Homo sapiens: one gene and its partners. The protein of the gene in region 3 interacts with the protein of the main gene of each other region in a pairwise test. Each region holds a gene or a part of one and is shown on either strand. Other genes may lie near its edges.

Region 1 (3,780 bases), on a different chromosome or scaffold from region 3:
TACCCTTTTCATTATGGCTTTTAGGCAATCTTTCGCTCTAAAAAAAAAAAGAGAGAGAGAGACAGTTAAGTATTTACTGATAAATTTAATTCAAACATTAAGGTATTATTCTATTACCAAATAATTTTATATTTAATGGCTCATGCCTGTAATTCCAACACTTCGGGAAGCCAAGGCGGGAGGATCACTTGAGCCCATGAATTTGAGACCAGCCTGGAAAACAAAGTAAGATCTCATCTCTATAAAAAACTTAAAAATTAGCTGGGCATGGTGGCATGTGTCTGTACTCCTAGCTACTCAGGAGGCTGAGGCAAGAGGACTGCTTGAGCCCAGGAAGCTGCTGTGAGCTGTGTCATGCCACTATACTCCAGCCTGGATGACAGAGACCGTGTCTCAAAATAAAGAAAGTATAAAATAAAAATAAACTAAACTAAAATCCTGGAAATTTCATATTGTTAAAGGAATAAATCTATAAAATGATTTTACACAATATTTTGTTTATAGGCTCATAGAACTTTAAAAAAAAAAAGCATGTTGCAAATGTTGTGTATTCCAAAATTAAGAGACAAACCATTTCACAAAAGATCTGTCAACACAAGAGACGTATACCAGATCTTTCTATTTCTTCAAGACAGGTTTAGCTTTCAAACAGCAAAAGCTTATCTTGAAAAAAATCTAACATGATATACAATTTTAAGAGGTTCAAGTATAAACATGTGAATGTACTATGAAAAGCTTTAATGTTAAAACAAATGCTTTCATCACTCTTCTAAATTTCTAACATATAGTTCAGCTAATTGCCACATCTCCCCAAAAGCACTTTTTTATATTCACTTTTTTCATTGTTAATCTATTATATTTATATGTATATTATTTGAAGACTTTTTTGTTATATTATCTACTGTGTTATCTACTTCATTATTTAAAAGTTCCCATACATATAGAAGTCCCAGAGGAATTCCTTAAATAACTCACCTATACATTGTTATCATGTATCCTATTGTGTCAAGGCTTTAATTATGTGTGTTACTATAGCAGATTTTCAGTTGAACTCTTTTTCATGTAAATTAATCCCATAAATCCAGCATTCAGGCTTTTTTAACTTTTATGTCCCAAAAGTAAAACAACTGACCCTTTAACTACATGAAAGTTAAGGACACCAACACCCCACGCAGCCGAAAATCTGTGTATAACTTTTGATTCCCCAAAAACTTCACTATTAATAGTCTACTCTTTTTTTTTTTTTTTTTTTGAGACAGAGTCTCGCTCTACCGTCCAGGCTGGAGTGCAGTGGTGCCATCTCGGCTCACTGCAAGCTCTGCCTCCTGGGTTCAAGCGATTTTCCTGTCTCAGCATCTCAAGTAGCTGGGATTACAGGCGCACACCATTATGTCCAGCTAAGTTTTGTATTTCTAGTAGAGATGGGGTTTCACCATGTTGGCCAGGCTGGTTTCGAACTCCTGACCTCAAGTGATCTGCTCGCCTCGGCCTCTCAAAGTTCTGGGATTATAGGCGTGAGCCACTGCGCCCAGCCAACTAACAGCCTACTCTTGACCAGAAGCCTCACCAATACCATAAACAGTAGATGGACATATATTTTGTATATACATAATATACTGTATTCTTACAATAAGGTAAGCTAGAGAAAAAAAAATGTTGTTAAGGAAATCATGAGTTGGAGGAAGAGGGGTTGGTCTTGCTGTCTTAGAGGTAGCAGAGGTGGAAGAAAACCTATGTATAAGTGAACCCTCGCAGTTTAAATCTGTGTTGTTCAAGGGTCAACTGTGATAAAGTCTCATTTTCCTCTCAAAGTTACATCACAAAAAGAGACACTGGTTATCAAGTTCCTAGACATTCACTGAGCATGACTGGACATCTTACCCATTAGGAGTACTTCCAACTTTGTCACATATGTCCATAATAAGACTCCAATCTTCTGTAGTGTTGTACTCATTCGTGGCTTTTTCTATAAAATATATTGGCATACACAACAATGAGGACACATCTCATATAACACTAAAATACCAGTAAAGGTCCAACAGTTAAGAAATCCTACCTTTTCTATTGCCGAAGATACTACAGACGACCTTCAGAAGACAAAAGTACTTCTACTAACTTCAATTTTAAATTGTATAATTAAATGAACTAAATATCTTGAGGTAAAGCAATAAAATGCCTTCTAAATAAACAAATTACTAAGTATCAATAATCCCATCAAATTCTAATTTGGAAGAAAGTTTTAAAGATGTATAATCCAGGCCGGGCATGGTGGCTCATGCCTGTAATCCCAGGCATGGGAGGCCAAGGCAGGAAGATCGTTTGAGGCCAGGAGTTCGAGACCAGCCTGGGCAATATAGATAGACCCTGTTTCTACGAAAAATAAATTTTAAAAATTAGCCAGGCATGGTGGCAAATGCCTGTAATCTTAGCTACTTGGGAGGCTGAAATGGGAGGATTGCTTGAGCCTATGACCTCAAGGCTGCAGTGAGCTATTATCATGCTACCGCACTCCAGCCTGGATGACAGGGTGAGACTCTACCTCTTAAAAAAATTAGAAAGTATATCATACAAGTAAATATGCACTACACTGTCCAATAAAGCATTGGTTTTGTAAATTTTTTTAATAGATAAGGGGTCTCACTATGTTGCCCAGGCTGGTCTTGAACTCCTGGGCTCATGGAATCCTCCTTGGCTCCCAAATGTTGGGATTACAGGCCACTGCACCCAGCCTGAAGCACTGTTTTCAATAGCAAAAAGGAAAATTGATTAATAAATTCATACAACGAAATATGAAATGAGGAATACAAAATTAAATGAACAAAAATTTATGAATCTCAAAATATGATTTGCTTGGGCTTATAACGCTGAGTCAAAAAAGCTAACAGCAGAAGAATTTATAATATTTACATGAGTTCTTTTTTTTTTTTTTTTTTCGACAGTGTCTTGCTCTGTTGCCCAGGCTGGCTGGAGTGCAATGGCACGATCTCAGCTCACTGCAACCTCCACCTCCCAGGTTCAAGCAATTCTCCTGCCTCAGCCGCCTGAGTAGCTGAGACTACAGGCGCCTGCCACCACACTCGGCTAATTCTTGTATTTTTAGTAGAGATGGGGTTTCACCATATTGGTCAGGCTGGTCTCAAACTCCTGACCTTGTGATCCGCCCACCTCAGCCTCCCAAAGTGCTAGGACTGATTACAGACATAAGCCACCGCACCCAGCTACATGAGTTTTTTAAGACAGCTTTATCGCTATAATTCATGTATCAATACAATTTACACATTTAAAATGTACAATTCAATGTTTTGACTATATTCATAGAGTTGTACAACTAACACCAGTATCTAATTTGAGAACATTTAATCACTTCCAAAAGAAATCCATACCCATTGGCAGTCACTGTTCATTCTCCCCACATATTCCCAGCCCTACGCAACCACTTGTCTACTTTCTGTCTCCAAAGATTTACCTATTCCGGATTTTTCATATAAATAGAACCACACAATATATGTTCTTTTCTGACTGGCTTCTGTTATTTGGCATAATGTTTGCAAGGGTCATCCACGTTGTAGCATGTACCAGTACTTCATTTCTTCTTATGGCTAAATAATATTCCATTGTATAGATATACCACATTTATTCATTCACCAGTTCATGAACATCTGGGTTGGTTGGTTGGTTGGTTGGTTGGCTTACTGAGACAGGGTCTCACTCTGTTGCCCAGGCTGGTGTGCAGTGGTGTGATCACAACTCACTGCAGCCTTTATCTCCCGGGGCTCACGT
Region 2 (3,780 bases), on a different chromosome or scaffold from region 3:
GCCATCTCGGACTAAGAGTAAGGGGGAGCTTGAGGAGTCCTCACACCAGTCCCCATACCATCTTCCTCCAGACAGTGCTACAGAAAAGAGAAATGAACTTCCTATTTCTTTAAGCTACTTTATCTGGATTTACCATTACTTATAGCCAAATCCATTTCCAACCAGTCAGTGCTGGAGACAGGATTCAAACCAGGTAAATCCCAACTCTTACCCACTGTATTGTCTACAAAGTCACAAGAATGAACAGAGTTAGGAGCTAAAAGCACTGAGGGCCAGAGAAGGAATGTAATTTCCCTACAGTCACACAGTGGGCTAGAGGCTGGGACCCAAGACTCTTGACTCCCAGGCCTGGGTCCTTCCCTCCCTTCGGGCTTCCTACAATGGGAGAAGCCAGGCCAAATTCAGACAAGAGGGGTCTAGGTTTGCCCGGCCTTAAATCAAGAAACATGGATCATCATTGAGATCAAGGAGGCCATAGTTTATGCTCCAAAGGGACTCTTCCTGCCCAGAGCTACTATGGGCCTGTGCCAAGTGAAAAGCCTGGACCACTGCCCCTGGTTGCCAAGCACACCCTGCTGTGTAAAGCAAGCCCCATCTGCCATGGCCCAGCCCTGCCCGCCTGCTCACCGCACAGTGATGGGGATGCTGGAGCGGCGGTCACTGTCCCTCTCGTGCTGACGGGCCCCGCTCCGCATGATGATGTAGCGGTTCTTCAGTTTCTCTGCAGCCTCTGCTGACAGCCGGGGGCCACACTTCCTGCAGGACAGTGGGGAGAGGCTGGTGTGAGGCCAGGAGGGACTCTTAGGGCACCTACCCTTTCCCCCAGCCCCCTGCCAGCTTACAGACATGCACTTTCCCACCACACCACAGCTGCCCACTCATATGGGCTGGGGGACAACAATCGGAAAAGATTTAAGTGAAATCTGGCTGTGGGCAGCTGCCACAAACATCAACACTGGGGAGAAATATGGGTGCCTCTCTTAAAAAACAGGTGAAGAAAAGCCAGGCACGTCTGCAGGGTGAAAACCGCCTCTTCCCCACTGTTAGACGCTGTGTGGTGTCTTGCCACAAGGTCCCCCATACATGTAATGAACAATGGCACAATCACAGCGGCATGGAGGCCCACTGGGTGGTGGGCTTTGCAGCAGTCTCAAACTCCTCCACCCAACACATCTGAAGACACGACAAGCTGATGACACCCACAGGAGGCTTGGCGGTGACTGCAGTCCAGGGGCTGGGAGCACCTCAGACTCTCCTGGGACGGTAGGTGTGGGGAAGTCTGATCAGCATCTACCCTATCCCATCCCCTCCCCTCTAGCCCCCAGGCCAACTGACAGTCACTGATGTAGGGAAAGCCTTAGCTCAACCATCCTAAGGATGTGGAGACTGAGACCCAGAGGGAGGGAGGGAACTCCCCAAGGCTACCTGGGGACTTAGTGCAGAGGGAAGATTAGAATCCAGGGCTCCCTGACTCACAGCTGTGGGCCCAAGCCTCTCAAGACTGGGCCACACAGAGCTCAGACTTGGATGAAGACCCAGGGACTACCCACTCACCCTGGCAGAGGTGCTGAATCAGGGACCCACCAGCCCCCCACTGGTAGTGCATTCAAAGAGCCCTCAACCCCTGGGTTTTAGCTCCTTCAAAAGATCACCAAAGCGCTGTACGACAAGAATCGAAGCACTGTGGTTAAGAGCACAGCCTCTGGAGGCAAGCAGCTGGGTTCACATCCTGGCTCCACTACCTCTGGCATGTGACCTTGGGCAAGTTACTTAACTTCCTTTGCCTCAGCTTCCCCATCCATAAAGGGAAGGGAATAATAGCACACCTTACCTGGTAGGTTTTGGGGGAGGGTTATAATTTATTCATATAGAAAATACTGAATAGTAATTCAGAATGCCTGGCACAAAGAAAGTAGTGTGTAAGAGTGAGTGTGTGTGTGTGTGTGTGTGTGTACACATATATATATATTTTTTTTTTTTGAGACAGAGTCTCACTCTGTTGCCCAGGCTGAAGTGCAATGGCACGATCTCAGCTCACTGCAATCTCTGCCTCCTGGGTTCAAGCAATTCTCCTGCCTCAGCCTCCTGAGTAGCTGGGACTATAGGTGTGCACCACCACACCCGGCTAATTTTTGTATTTTTAGTAGACATGGGGTTTCGCCACGTTGGCCAGGCTGGTCTCGCACTCCTGACCTCAAGTGATCCACCTGCCTCCGCCTCCCAAAGTGCTGGGATTACAGCGTGAGCCACTGCAACCAGCCAGTACTATGTATATAATTATTATTATTGAAAATCTGTGAGAACAATCAAATTGCAGCTGCGACTCACTGAGTATTTACCCAGGGCAGGGCTATGCCAAGCACTTACTCATCATCTTGTGCAATCCTTACAAAAATCCTAGCAAACATCGATAGGCCTGGGGAAATCAAGGCTCAGAGAGGCCAACCAACTTGCCCAAAGTCATAGAGTGAAGGCAGGTATGACCCAGAGCCCATGTCTACCATGTCTACACTTCACTGCCTCCCTGCATGTCAGACTCGAGGAGGTCTTCAAGACCATCTAAATCCCACCTCCTTGGTGTGGAGGTGGGAAAACTGAAGCCAAGAGCCAGTGAGCTACGCAAGGTTAGAAGGGAGCAGAGCAGATTCAGTAGAGCTGAGAACCTCAGAACAGCAACATCTGGGCTGTTCTTCATGAGGAGGAGCAGGACCAGGGGACTGGGTTCTCTCCCACCCAGGGAAGCTGGGCAACCTCACCCCCGTGGGCCTGCGTCCAGGACTCACACTCGGCAGTAGGCAATAAACTTCTTCAGCTTGGCCAGGTCAATCTCGCCCTCCACAGCCTGTGTCTGTGTCAGTGCGCTCACGTGCAGAGTGATGACATGCTTGGCCAGCATCTGGAGAGCAGAGGGGATAATGGGTCATCCCACAGGCCGTCCCAAGCCTGAGTCCCAGCACTGAGGTGGAACAGCCAGAAAGAGCTGATGGGGCCCTGGCATCAAGGAGCCGGAAAGGGTGCTGAGATCTCAGGCGTGCTCAGCCTGTTTGCTCAGCACCAGGCCCTCGTTCTGATGGGAGCATCTGGATTCTCCTTTAGAGAGAACTTAATGCTCCTTGCTCCTCTGCCCTGGTCCATAAAGGGGTGGGTTCAGCTTGTCCACCCCGACTTGGGGCATGTATCTTGTCCACCCCAACTTGGGCATGGACATAGGATCTACCCAAGCCAATAGGAGTCTATCCTGGGACTTTTGATAGAAGTACTGGAAAAGACGGGGCCTCCTCTTTCCTGGGGGCTGTTAAGCTACAAGCTAACAGGACAAAATCTTATTTTGTCTTTGCCACCACAAGAGGAACAGCTGCCCAAGTACAAAGATTCCACCAAGGGAAGCAGAACAGAAAGGCAGAGACAGTTGTTTGAGAATCCAGATCTACCTGGGCCTTAAGCCGCCGGACTTACCAATTCTATAAACCACTATGTTTTTTTCTTTGAAAAATTTACTAACCAGAACTGAGGTTCTATTACTCATAACCCAATGTCAACTCCTCTGTTTCATATATAAGGGACTGAGGCCCAGGGAGAAACTGATTTAGCCCAAATCACACAGCTTATCACTCACGGCAGAGGCAGAGCAGGCCACAGGACTCCAGACCCTGCTTCAATCCTCTGCAGTCCACAACAACCGCCCTCTCACGTGCTCCCCAATTTCACAGCCTGACAGTCAGGACTTTGCCAGCCAAGGCCCTTGTTCTCCATTCTCCTTCCCACACAATCACAAGCCTG
Region 3 (4,060 bases):
GTAGATGAAAGTTTTCTCAGTTGAGAATAAACATACTTGTTATATTATTATGTAAGAATGCCATTTCTAAGATATCAATCTTGCTTTCCACTCATGGTCACTTTTTTTCCCTTGTATTATTTCATCCTATTATCTTCAAATAAAATTTTCTTACAATAAGTACAAGATAGTTACAAATCGTGGACTGACTTTACTGTAGAAACATATTTTGGCAAGCCTCTATTAAGATGAGGCTTTCTTCACAACCACCACTAAGTTTTTCTTGTAGATTAGACTATAGCACTAGTGCATAAGCAAGGGCAGTAATTTTTGCAGTGGTTCTTAAACACCCATAGTTTCTTAGTCAGAATCACTTGCTTTTTCAAACTAACAAGGCTGGAGCCTTCCTAAGTATCTTGTTTTTCTGAATCATATTTTCCAAGAATAGGCTGAGTGGGCAGGCATATGTATTTCTTAAAGATTCTCAGATAATTCTGACATGCAACTCTGGTTAAGACCCACTGATCCTGGGGTTGAGCACAAGACAGCCCAGCTACTCTTGAGGTAGGCTGGCTGAAACTTTGTCTCCTGAGGTGTTCTGTATTGTATGGTAGTAAGCTGAGTCAATCCCACTTATTCCTTGGAAAGTATTAACTATAACTGAGCGTGGAAAATAAACATTAAATGGGCACTTGAGTTCAGATTGTTGGCCAGAGCAAGGCTGAGATAATTCTTATGTGCCCTATGAAGTACACTGCACATCCCAGTCTTGAAGAACTTGCGTGGCTAAGGAGATGACATCCAAGTCCAATATATGCTTACAATAATATCCCATCAGTTAAGGCCTTCTATGCATTCTGCTTCTCTGCTACCGTAAACCTACACAACCTGACAACACACATTTCCATTCTCTTCCCTAGTCCTTATTACACTGTATTAATAATTAACTGTTTACTTGTTAGTATAGCCTAAGATCATTTAAGGCAAGGACACTCTAAGTACCAAGACATAGTGCATCTGATGTTTAAAAGACAATAAAAAAGTAAAACATATTACAAAGTAAAACATGCCTTTAATAAAAGGTAAATTTATGTAATAAAAGTCAAACCATAACTAAAAGGAGTTAAGATTTTACTCCTTATTCTTATAAAATTATAAAGGTAAACTTTAAATACTGCAACAGTGTATTACTTTGTGCTTAATAAGATTAAATGATTATATGTATAGAGAGGTGATAAATTTATTTTCAAGCAACTGAAGAATTTTCTACTTAATATTAGAGAACTTTATCAAGACTGAATGTTTATTTGTAAAGAAAATTTCACAATAATTTATTAAGTGATTTGTAGGAGATAATCAAAGGCATTTTGTTTGGTTCTATAATACAAAACTGCTTACCAAAAGTTTTAGCAGCTTGGATAGTTTCTCTGGATCCCCTAATTGTCATAATTTGGGCCAAAGCAGTTAAATCATCACTTGCTTTATAAAATGGATATCGTCCACTAAGCAAAGAAAGAAATATGACACCTGCAGACCACATGTCAATTGCTGCAACAGAAGACAAATTTTAAAAATAAATTTCAAATCTATAATTTTATCATCTAAATCAATAGTCCTCAACATTTATTATGCATTAGAATCACCTTGGGAGCCTTAAAAATTTCAGATGCCCAGACCCAAAGATTTTGATTGAACAGTTCTGAAGTAGGGCTCAGGCATCAATGTTTTAAAAAAGTTCCTCAGGTGATTTTAATGTACAACCAGGACTGAGAATCCTCACTGCAAAATATGTTTTCTTTCTTGAGCAACGTGTTGGTAAATTTAAAAGGATATTTAATCACTAGGAAACACTAAGTAAACGCACATTTTATAGGATCAAAAGGAATCCAAAAATAGCTATGTGGGAAAAAATCTGAATGATCCTTGAGAATTACATACCATACTGGTCAAAGTGCTTTCATTTTAGTGAAAAGTAATGAACATTAGAAGCTCTTCTTCAGCTGACACTAGCACCAACTACTGCTATAGAAACTTTTAAAAAATTACTTTTTTATTTTTTTGTGACTGTGAAGACTTTAATTTTTCTGAGTACACAGTAGGTGTATATATTGATGGGGTATATAAGATGTTTTGATACAGGCATGCAGTGTGTAATAATCACATCCTGGAAAACAGGGTATCCATTCCCTCAAGCATTTATCCTTTGTGTTACGAACAATCCAATTATATTCTTTTCTTTTTTTCTTTTTGAGACAAGGTCTCCCTCTGTGGCCCAGACTAGAGTGCAGTGGCACAGTCTCAGCTCACTGCAATCTCTGCCTCCCAGGTTCAAGCAATTCTCATGCTTCAGCCTCTTGAGTAGCTGGGATTACAGGCATGTCACCATGCCCAGCTCTTTTTTTTTTTTTTTTTTTTTTTTTTGTATTTTTAGTAGAGACGAGGTTTTGCCACATTGGCCAGGCTGGTCTCAAGCTCCTGGGCTCAAGTGATCTGCCTGCCTCAGCCCCTCAAAGTACTCTTTTAGTTATTTTAAACTGCACAATTAAATTACTGACTATAATCCCCCTGCTGTGCTATCAAATACTAGGTCTTAATTCATTCTTTTTTTTTTTTTTTCGAGATGGGGTCTGGCTCTGTTACCCAGGCTAGAGTGTGGTAGTGTGATCTCGGCTCACTGCAACCTCCGCCTCCCAGGCTCAAGTGATCCTCCCACCTCAGCCTCCTGAGTAGCTGGGACCACAGATGCACACTACCACATCCAGCTACTTTTTTGTATTTTTGGTAGAAATAGGGTTCTACCATGTTGCCCAAGCTGGTCTCGAGTGCCTGAGCTCAAGCAATCCACCTGCCTTGGCCTCCCAAAGTGCTGGATAATTCATTCTTTATAACTATTTTTTGTACCCATCAGCTGTCCCCACATCCCCCACACCCTCCCACCACCCTTCTCAGCCTCTGGTAACCATCTTTCTGCTCTCTATGGGTTCAATTGTTTTAATTTTTAGATCCCACAAATTAGTGAGAACATGCAACTCTTGTCTTTCGGTGCCTGGCTTATTTCACCTGACATAATGATCTCCAGTTCCATCCATGTTGTTGCAAATGACAAGATCTTCTTTTTCGTGGCTGAATAGTACTTCCATTGTGTGTAAGTACCACATTTTCTTTATCCATTCATCTGTTGACGGACACTTAGGTCGCTTTCAAATTTTGGCTATTATGAATAGTGCTTCAACAAACATGGGAGTGCAGATACCTCTTCGGTACATTGATTTCCTTTCTTTTGGGTATATACCCAGCAGTGGGATTGTTGGATCATGTAGTAGCTCTATTTTTAGTTTTTTGAGGAACGTCCAAATTGTTTTCCATAGTGGTTGTACTAATTTACATTCCCACTATAGAAACTTTAATCTTCTGAATTCTGGTAGTTAAAGATTACGACTAGCTCAACTTGATGTTAAAAAGCTCTTTTTTTTTTTTCTTAAAGTTGACATCTCTCTTAATTGTTGACTTCCTAGTATCACCAGGTTATCTGCTCTCTGTTCCTTGGGCTACTGTATCACCTTTTTTTTTTTTTTTTTTTTTTTGAGACTGAGTCTCACTCTGTTGCTCAGGCTGGAGTGCAATGGTGCGATCTTGGCTCACTGTAACCTCTGCCTCCCGGGTTCAATTCTCCTGCCTCAGCCTCCCCAGTAGCTGGAACTACAGGTGTGTGCCACCATGCCCTGCTAATTTTTTGTACTTTTTAGTAGAGACGGGATTTCGCCATATTGGCCAGGCTGATCTCGAACTCCTGACCTAGTGATCTGCCTGCCTTGGCCTCCCAAAGTGCTGGTATTATAGGCATGAGCCACTGTGCCCGGCCCTACTTGCCTTTCTTAGCTCCTTTGGTACCTCTGCCTGCTCCTTCAATGTTTTCTCCAAGCCTTAAGTGCTGACGGATATTCCTCAGAGTTTTAACTTCTCCCTCTGTATACTCTCCCTGATTGGTCCATCCACTTCATGGCTTCAACTGTCATTTATATAATGATGACATTCATCTGTATTTCTAGCCCAGCTCCTTCGCTGAGCATCAGACTTAACT
Region 4 (3,780 bases), on a different chromosome or scaffold from region 3:
CGGGTTAAGTCTCAAATGTCCCTTATTAGCTATGTCACAACTTCTCTGAGCCTTAGTTCTCACGTCTGTAAAATAGGGATGATGGTAGTCTTTGTCACAGTGTATTGATGTGAGGATGCAGTGAGAAAGCATAGTCGGGCGCGGTGGCTCACGCCTGTAATTCCCAGCACTTTCGGAGGCTGAGGTGGGTGGATCACGAGGTCAGGAGATCGAGACTATCCTGGCTAACACGGTGAAACCCCGTCTCTACTAAAAATACAAAAAAAAATTAGGCCGGGCATGGTGGCTCACGCCTGTAATCCCAGCACTTTGCAAGGCCAAGGCGGATGGATCACGAGGTCAGGAGATCGAGACCATCCTGGTTAACACAGTGAAACCCCGTCTCTACTAAAAATACAAAAAATTAGCCGGGCGTGGTGTCGGACACCTGTAGTCCCAGCTACTCTGGAGGCTGAGGCAGGAGAATGGCATGAACCCAGGAGGCGGAGTTTGCAGTGAGCCAAGATTGCGCCACTGCACTCCAGCCTGGCGACAGAGCGAGACTCAGTCTCAAAAAAAAAAAAAAAAAAAAAATTTAGCCAGGTGTGGTGGCATGTGCTTATAGTCCCAGCTACTCAGGAGGCTGAGGCAGGAGAATCCCTTGAACCCGGGAAGCGGAGGTTGCGGTGAGCTGAGATTGCACCATTGCACTCCAGCCTGGACAACAAGAACAAAACTCTGTCTCAAAAAAAAAAAAAAAAAAAGAGGGAAAGCATAATGTGTGCTTCACATGGACCCTGGTACTTGCTAGGAACTCAGTAAAGATTAGCTATTCTGGCCGGGCACAGTGGCTCATGCCCGTAATCCCAGCAGTTTGGGAGGCCAAGATGTGCGACTTTTAGCACTTTGAGGCCAAGGTGGGCAGATCACTTGAGGTCAGGAATTTGAGACCAGCCTGGCCAACATGGTGAAACTCCATCTCTACTAAAAATACAAAAATTAGCCGGGCATGGTGGCACACGCCTGTATTCCCAGTTACTCGGGAGGCTGAGGCAGGAGAATCGCTTGAACTCGGGAGGCAGAGGTTGCAGTGAGCTGGGATCGACCCCTTGCACTCCAGCCACGGGGACAAGAGTGAAACTCCATCTCAAAAAAAAAAAAAAAAGACTATCAAAATGGATGTAATTATTTATGTATGTATGTTTATATGTATGTATTTATTTATTTATTTGAGATGGAGTTGCCAAGCTGGAGTTGCCCAAGCTGGAGTGCAGTACAGTAGCACGATCTCTGCTCACTGCAGCTCTGCCTCTTGAGTTCAAGCAATTCTCCTGCCTCAGACTCCCGAGTAGCTGGCCTGCCACCATGCCCAGTTCTTTTGTATTTTTAGTAGAGATTACAAGTGTGAGCCATCGCGCCCAGCTCACGCCTGATTCCCAGCACTTTGGGAGGCGGAGGCAAGCGGATAACCTGAGGCCAGGAATTTGAGGCCAGCCTGGCCAACATGTTGAAACCCCATCTCTACTAAAAATACAAAAATTAACCAGGCCTGGTAGTGCACGCCTGTAATCCCAGCTATTTCGGAGGCCGAGGCAGAAGAATTGCCTCAACCCTGGAGGCAGAGGCCACAGTGAGCAGACATGGCACGACTGTACTCCAGTCTGGGCGACAGAGAGAGACTCTGTCTCAAAAAAAAAAAAAAAAAAGGATGGGGTCTCACTATGTTGCCCACGCTGGGCTTCTCGAACTGTCCTGGGATCAAGAGATCCTCCTACCTTGTCCTCCCAAAGTGCTGGGATTACAGGCTTGAGTCATGATGCCCAGCCTAATTTTTATAAAAGCACAAAATAACCCTGGAAGACACCTGGGAGTTTATTTTTTATTTTTTTCTTAGAGACAGGGTCTTACTCTGTCACCCAGGCTGGAGTGCAGTGACCCAATAACACCTCACAGTAACTACAAACTCCCGGGCTCAAGAGATCCTCCCACCTCAGTCTCCTGAGTAGCTAGGACTACATGGGCACACCACCATTCCTGGTTAATTTAAAAAATCTTTTTTGTAGAGATGAAATCTCCCTGTGTTGCCAGGCTGGTCTCAAACTCCTGGTCTCAAGCAGTCTTCCTTCTTTGGCCTCCCAAAGTGTTAGGATTACAGGTGTGAGCCAGCCTTGTTTTTCAGAATTTTATTTATTTATTTTTTTGAGACTGAGTCTCGCTCTGTCGCCCAGGCTGGGGTGCAGTGGCACAATCTCTGCTCACTGCAGCCTCCACCTCCTGGGTTCAAGTGATTGTCCTGCCTCAGCCTCCCGAGTAGCCGGAATTACAGGCGCATGCCACCACGCCCAGCTAATTTTTGTATTTTTAGTAGAGATGGGGTTTCACCATGTTGGCCAGGCTGGTCTTGAACTCCTGACCTAGTGATCTGCCCACCTCAGCCTCCCAAAATGCTGGGATTACAGGTGTGAGCCACTGCGCCCGGCCCAGACTATTTTTTATTATTTGTTTTTATTTATTCATTTATTTTGAGACGGAGCCTCACTCTGTTGCCCAGGCTGGAGCGCAGTGGCACTATCTTGGCTCACTGCAACCTCCACCTCCCAAGTTCAAGCAATTCTCCTGCCTCAGCCTCCCGAAGAGACTGCAGGCACGCACCACCACACCCGGCAAATTTTGTATTTTTAGTAGAAACGGAGTTTCACCATGTTGCCCAGGGTGGTCTTGAACCCCTGACCTCAGGTGATCCACCCACTTCGGCCTCCCAAAGTGCTGGGATTACAGGCGTGAGCCACCGCGCCCGGCCGTTTTTCAGACTTGTAAAAGACCAGTCCTTGGCCGGGCGCGGTGGCTTACGCTTGTAATCCCAGCACTTTGGGAGGCCAAGGCGGGCAAATCACGAGGTCAGGAGACGGAGACCATCCTGGCTAACACGGTGAAACCCTCGTCTCTACTAAAAACGCAAAAAATGGCCGGGCGCGGTGGCTCACGCCTGTAATCCCAGCACTTTGGGAGGCCGAGGCGGGTGGATCACGAGGTTAGGAGATCGAGACCACGGTGAAACCCCGTCTCTACTAAAAATACAAAAAAAAAAAAAAAATAGCCGGGCGCGGTGGCGGGCGCCTGTAGTCCCAGCTACTCAGGAGACTGTGGCAGGAGAATGGCGTGAACCCGGGAGGCGGAACTTGCAGTGAGCCGAGATCGCGCCACTGCACTCCAGCCTGGGCGACAAAGCAAGACTCTGTTTCAAAAAAACAAAAAACAAAAAAAAAACCGCAAAAAATTAGCCAGGTGTGGTGACACGTGCCTGTAGTCCCAGCTACTAGGGAGGCTGAGGCAGGAGAATCGCTTGAACCTGGGAGGTGGAGGTTGCAGTGAGCCAAGACTGTGCCACTGCGCTCCAGCCTGGGCGAGGAGCGAGGCTCCGTCTCAAAAAATAAATTAATTAATATTAAAAAAAAAAAAAAAGACCAGTCCTCGTGTTCTGTCTACTGTTTCTACCGGGAGAAAATGTGGCTACCCTCCTTTGCTTGCAGAGGCGAGTGGAAGCTGGAGAACCAGCTGCCAGGGCCGGGTCTCGGCTAGGTTATTAACAGCTGAGGGATCTCCGCCCGGGTGGCTGGAACGCAGTGCTCCCGGGCGCTCCGTGCTCTCTGCTTCCCCCTGTAGGTAAAAACGGGAAGGCGGCCCCGGAGGGACGGCGGGAGGGAACACTGCCCCCTGGTGGTTGATGCCGCGCAAAAGAAAGAATGAAAAAGCCTGGCCCACAGAAGGTGGCAGCTGAGAAGGGTGCCCGGGAGCCTCAGA

The links. Proteins that work in one complex are often made in the same cells at the same time.
Region 1: the proteins of CDC7 (region 3) and STAM2 interact in binary tests that used the Homo sapiens proteins (3 or more experiments, as listed by UniProt).
Region 2: the proteins of CDC7 (region 3) and MCM5 interact in a two-hybrid assay, tested with the Homo sapiens proteins (one large-scale study listed by BioGRID).
Region 4: the proteins of CDC7 (region 3) and TSNAXIP1 interact in binary tests that used the Homo sapiens proteins (3 or more experiments, as listed by UniProt).

Annotation. Positions count from the first base shown.
Region 1 is NC_000002.12:152,148,264-152,152,043, forward strand, and holds part of STAM2 (signal transducing adapter molecule 2), read right to left. Parts: intron 1,967-3,780; coding exon 1,882-1,966; intron 38-1,881; coding exon 1-37.
Region 2 is NC_000022.11:35,416,860-35,420,639, reverse strand, and holds part of MCM5 (DNA replication licensing factor MCM5), read right to left. Parts: intron 2,897-3,780; coding exon 2,784-2,896; intron 757-2,783; coding exon 628-756; intron 1-627. UniProt on the Homo sapiens protein: Acts as a component of the MCM2-7 complex (MCM complex) which is the replicative helicase essential for 'once per cell cycle' DNA replication initiation and elongation in eukaryotic cells.
Region 3 is NC_000001.11:91,517,597-91,521,656, reverse strand, and holds part of CDC7 (cell division cycle 7-related protein kinase), read right to left. Parts: intron 3,125-4,060; exon of another isoform or gene 2,982-3,124; intron 1,528-2,981; coding exon 1,378-1,527; intron 1-1,377. UniProt on the Homo sapiens protein: Kinase involved in initiation of DNA replication. Phosphorylates critical substrates that regulate the G1/S phase transition and initiation of DNA replication, such as MCM proteins and CLASPIN.
Region 4 is NC_000016.10:67,816,609-67,820,388, reverse strand, and holds part of TSNAXIP1 (translin-associated factor X-interacting protein 1), read right to left. Parts: intron 1-3,780. UniProt on the Homo sapiens protein: Possible role in spermatogenesis.